2 separate regions of the Homo sapiens genome follow, and region 2 is linked to region 1. Evidence: fine-mapped QTL for protein levels in blood plasma. Region 1 holds a variant in brackets. A gene starts in the other region. All regions are shown on their forward strands.

Evidence for each region. PIP is the posterior inclusion probability: the model's chance that the variant is causal. Protein levels are from antibody-based Olink assays in UK Biobank. Linkage for the fine-mapping came from a reference panel and not from the study's own genotypes, which makes the PIPs less certain.
Region 2: NTRK2 starts here. The variant in region 1 is fine-mapped to the plasma level of the NTRK2 protein (UK Biobank, PIP 0.94).

Annotation. Positions count from the first base shown.
Region 1 is chr2:27,373,716-27,376,215 of GRCh38, forward strand. It overlaps SNX17 (sorting nexin 17), which reads left to right. Exons shown (of 15, transcript NM_014748.4): 5 at 146-256; 6 at 370-460; 7 at 631-718; 8 at 974-1,043; 9 at 1,346-1,438; 10 at 1,791-1,994; 11 at 2,131-2,256; 12 at 2,391-2,468. Among named protein-coding and RNA genes, the nearest start is that of SNX17, 4.4 kb to the left of the region's middle. The variant T/C (reference allele first, on the strand shown) is at 1,515.
Region 2 is chr9:84,667,135-84,670,119 of GRCh38, forward strand. It overlaps NTRK2 (neurotrophic receptor tyrosine kinase 2), which reads left to right and starts at 2,595. Exons shown (of 19, transcript NM_006180.6): 1 at 2,595-2,754. RefSeq lists a silencer at 1,120-1,339.

The DNA.
Region 1 (2,500 bases):
TCTATTCTTATGAAATCAAAGAAATCACAGCCTATATTTAAGCAGCTGAGAATAAAGACACACAAGGGACCTAGAAATAGAGTTGGGCATAGGTCAAGGCAAGGGACAAGGCAGTGCTTCCCATCCCCATGTGTGCTCACAACAGGAGACACAGCAGGTCCCCACAGAGGAAGTGTCCTTGGAAGTGCTGCTCAGCAACGGGCAGAAAGTTCTGGTCAACGTGCTAACTTCAGATCAGACTGAGGATGTCCTGGAGGTGAGGCGCTTGTTCAGCACTGCCCCTTCTTCCCCTACATCCTGGGGTCCTGGGCTTGGAGAATGATTGGAACCAGCCAGTATGATGAGCTGTACTTCTATCCCTATCCCCAGGCTGTAGCTGCAAAGCTGGATCTTCCAGATGACTTGATTGGATACTTTAGTCTATTCTTAGTTCGAGAAAAAGAGGATGGAGCCTTTTCTTGTGAGTTTCTCTGGACTTGACTGCAGTACAAGGGTACTTCAGTAGAGTTTGCAGCCCCCCTAACTCCCCACCCCCACCCCCAGAATGAACATTGCCTCAGGGCACTTCTTTCTTGATTTCCCTTCCTTTAAATCTCACTATATTTTCATTTTTTTTTTTTTAACCTGTAGTTGTACGGAAGTTGCAAGAGTTTGAGCTGCCTTATGTGTCTGTCACCAGCCTTCGGAGTCAAGAGTATAAGATTGTGCTAAGGAAGAGGTCAGGGCTGGGCCTGGAAGGGGAGGGGTGGGAGGTGCTGTGCTGGATTGGATTATTGGGCCACATATTGAGACAGAATAATCTGGACAAGGGGGTGTAGTGCTGGGTGTTTCTGCCAGGCCTCCCAAGCTTCCTCCCACTATACCATTAGCCCCTGATAGTTCCAGATTGCTCCTGTTTTGCCCATTTTCCATTCTACCTCTTGCCTTAACCCAGCTTAGCCCCATTACCCCTTTCCACCCCTTGGCCTCACAGTTATTGGGACTCTGCCTATGATGACGATGTCATGGAGAACCGGGTTGGCCTGAACCTGCTTTATGCTCAGGTGAGCTTGGAGCTGCCTCAGAACCCTTCCCCTGAAGAAAATAACGGGTGACTCACTCTCCCAAGAAAACTGCTGTCGTGTCTTTGTTCCCAATTTGTGGGGAAGTTCCTAGAATACTATCAGTGCTGCTGGCACAATATCTACTCTCCCTACTTTTATTAAGCTGACAAGATCAAGGACTTACTGCAGAGAGGTCGCTCAAGTGTGGGGCTAGGGGTCAGGCTGGACAGAGGTAATGGTAGACGCTTTCCTTGGATTGCTGACTGGGACCTCCTACTGCCTGCCCCTTGTCTCTACTATAGACGGTATCAGATATTGAGCGTGGGTGGATCTTGGTCACCAAGGAACAGCACCGGCAACTCAAATCTCTGCAAGAGAAAGTCTCCAAGAAGGAGGTGAGCCCTGCCTCCTCTCTGTCTTCCTCTAAGGGCTTGCAGTGGCGCGATCTTGGCTCACTGCAAGCTCTGCCTC[T/C]CAGATTCATGCCATTCTCCCGCCTCAGCCTCCCGAGTAGCTGGGACTACAGGCACCCGCCACGACGCCCGGCTAATTTTTTGTATTTTTGGGAGAGACAGGGTTTCACCATGTTAGCCAGGATGGTCTTGAGCTCCTGACCTTGTGATCTGTCTGCCTCTGCCTCCTAAAGTGCTGGGATTATAGGCATGAGCCACCGCGCCCGACCGGGGTTGCTTTTTCTGAGCTGCCCCATTCTCCCTCCTAATCTACCCCCATGTGATGACCATTTTTCAGTTCCTGAGACTGGCCCAGACGCTGCGGCACTATGGCTACTTGCGCTTTGATGCCTGTGTGGCTGACTTCCCAGAAAAGGACTGTCCTGTGGTGGTGAGCGCGGGCAACAGTGAGCTCAGCCTGCAGCTCCGCCTGCCTGGCCAGCAACTCCGAGAAGGCTCCTTCCGGGTCACCCGCATGCGATGCTGGCGGGTCACCTCCTCTGTGAGTCGGGTTAGGAGGGGGAAGGGCCTGGGTTGGGGGCCCGGCAAGCCTTGAGCTTAGGTATGGGCTGCAGCGGGTCAGGGAGCCAGACAGGTTGGTCAGAGTGAACTCAACCGAATTCCCCTTCCTCTCCCAGGTACCATTGCCCAGTGGAAGCACGAGCAGCCCAGGCCGGGGCCGGGGTGAGGTGCGCCTGGAACTGGCTTTTGAATACCTCATGAGCAAGGACCGGCTACAGTGGGTCACCATCACTAGCCCCCAGGTGTGAACCTACCCTCAGCCCTCCTCTGGAGCACCTTAAAGTGTAGAGTTTCCAGTACTCAATATGGGAGGCATTAGTGGTGCTGGGCTCAGAGTGACCACTCTCATCAAGCTGGACACTCTTCTTGCCCTCAGGCTATCATGATGAGCATCTGCTTGCAGTCCATGGTTGATGAACTGATGGTGAAGAAATCTGGCGGCAGTATCAGGAAGGTAGGCAGCAAGTGTGGACTGAGCAGTGAGCA
Region 2 (2,985 bases), not on the chromosome of region 1:
GAAAGTAAGGCAAGGTTTTAAGCAGTGCTAGGAGCACTCAGAACGCAAGGAAGATTTGAAATTGTGAAGGTGAGAAGGAGCGTGTCTGGGGGAATTATCCAGGTTCTTGCAGACTTAGAGGTTAAGAAAGTGAGATCTCCTTTATTTTATTTTATTTATTCATTAAAAATACACATATATTTTAACACCTACTATGTCCTTGAGAGATATCAATGAATAAAATAGATAAAAATCCCTGCCTTCATGGAGTGTACATTCTTCTGGGAGAAATTTTAAAAATATATATAATAAGTAAATTATCTGTCCAAAGGACAAACTGCTATGGTTGAAATAGTAGAGCAGAAGTAGGGTGATTAGAAGTAGGACCGCAAATCCTAATTTTAAGTGGGAGATAGTGGAATATATTTAGAATCCAACTATAATAGTAGCATATATTTACTCTAATAGAAACTCTACAAATATTCCAACATAATTAGACTCTTCTGGTGTACAAACCACCGTAAGACTGCCTATTCTCCATACCGCATTGACATGCTGCAGCCACTAGGGCGAAAATGGGCCGTTTCTTAGAAAAATGGGCTCAGAGTATGGGAGTGTGAGAGAAATGTGGGTGATTACGCACACACTCCTTCCTTCCCCAAGTGTTCCTCAGGGGCTTCTCCGCTTAAGGTTCACTGACAAGACAGGCGGAGTTTTACGTGCGTCTGAGACCAGGTCATTTTTGCCCTTGGCGTCTCTTCCTTGGCGCGTCCTCACCTAGTAGAGAATAGAGGCGCAGCTCAGGAGTAAACTTCAGCCTGGCCGTTCACCACTCGATGTGTGTTACAGCCGAGTGACAGTGGTGAGATAGACCTGCTGGCCTTGCTTTCGGGACCTGCAGCAAGATTTTTGGGTGCTGTCCAAGAATTCCCGCGGTTACACTCAGCGCCCAGGATCTGTACAAAAAAGCCCCAATAGATGTTTTACGTTCCCTTCGTAATATTTAACGCTTGGCCTAGATCCGAGCATTCACTCTAACGTTCGGTTTCTTGATCCTTCCCATCCCCAAACTCTGCGGGTAGATCAGTGACTATTACTATATTTTGAACGAGACTCCAACCCATTGCTCTCTCGAGAGAGAAGGATTGCCCGCCTTTTTCCCCCGGGCAGGAGCTCGGCGAGGCCAGGAGAGCCGCGCACCGGCCGGGCAGGGACGCGCAGGCGTCGGGCGCCGCTGGTTGCGCATCTGGCGCCAGAGCGCGCCCCCAGCGCTGTGCCCGCCGCGACCCGGGCCATGGGCTGGTGCTCCGGAGCGTGCCGGGCGCTCTCTCCCCGCGCGGGGGCACCAGAGCCCTCGGAAGTGTCAGGCACTGCGGTGTATTTTCCCCGTTCTCTTTTAAATGACTGCGGAAAAACAGATTCCGAGCCGCAAAAGGGAAGACGGATTCTCAGACAAGGCTTGCAAATGCCCCGCAGCCATCATTTAACTGCACCCGCAGAATAGTTACGGTTTGTCACCCGACCCTCCCGGATCGCCTAATTTGTCCCTAGTGAGACCCCGAGGCTCTGCCCGCGCCTGGCTTCTTCGTAGCTGGATGCATATCGTGCTCCGGGCAGCGCGGGCGCAGGGCACGCGTTCGCGCACACCCTAGCACACATGAACACGCGCAAGGTACGGCAGGGGAGCAAGGGCTTGGGATGCCCTACGTGGGGGTGGGCATCGCGGGGAGTGAATCCACGATCTGGGAATGGCTACATCCCGTCAGGTTAAAGGATGAGAGAAAATGACGCGGCGCCACACATCGGACAGGCCAGGGTGGCCACCGAGCATTTAGAATACGCATCAGGCGCGCTCCCTTCCCCTCACATGTCTCTATTTCCCGGGCGTGTGATGGCAGAAAACGGCAGGAAAAAGACCCACTTAGAGAGCTAGAATTGTGTTTGGAGACTCCCTTCCCTCTGCAAAAGCACCAACAGGAAGCCCCTCCAAAACCACCGATCCCCAAATAGGTGGCCCGGAATGGGGGCGGTGATCCTTGGTTACCAATGCAGAACACGTTTTGGTGTTTACAACATTTATTTATTTTTAGGATAGCTTGCCCTCCCTTTTAGGCAGGGTGGGAAAGGAGAACGCGGGGAGGGAGAAGGGAGGGAGGATTCCTATAATAAGAATCAGCGCATTTTTCAGAGCTGAACCAAGCACGGTTTCCATTTCAAAAAGGGAGACAGCCTCTACCGCGATTGTAGAAGAGACTGTGGTGTGAATTAGGGACCGGGAGGCGTCGAACGGAGGAACGGTTCATCTTAGAGGTACCTGGATGTAAATGCACACACACACACAGACACACACACGCACGCGCGTGCATGTCTACACGGCCAGGATGTGTGCGTGTGTGCGCGCGTGTGTGAACTCCCACATGCTGCTGCTGTCTGCTTCTGGCCAGTGGCACCGATGCCTCCCTCCTCCCTGCTCGCCCCCAGATTCCCCTCCCCTCCCTGGTGCTTTTGTCTGGAGGGTGTTATGGGTTTGTGTGTGTATGAGCGTGTGTGTGTTTTTGGATTTCAGACTAATTTTCTGGAGTTTCTGCCCCTGCTCTGCGTCAGCCCTCACGTCACTTCGCCAGCAGTAGCAGAGGCGGCGGCGGCGGCTCCCGGAATTGGGTTGGAGCAGGAGCCTCGCTGGCTGCTTCGCTCGCGCTCTACGCGCTCAGTCCCCGGCGGTAGCAGGAGCCTGGACCCAGGCGCCGCCGGCGGGCGTGAGGCGCCGGAGCCCGGGTGAGCAGCGCAGATAGTGCCCTCGGTCGCCTCGGCCCTCACTGTCTCCCCCTGGGGCGGCCTCGGCTACTCCCCAGGTGGGACGTGCCGCGCCACCTGCCCGCGCCACCGGCACCCAGCGGCCGTGGCGGATTCTGCAGCATCATTCGGGGGCCCCGTCGCGGAGCCAAAGCCGCCGGCAGTCTCCGCATTCCCCTTTAAAGGGTCCTTCGCCCGGCCTGTACCATGGAA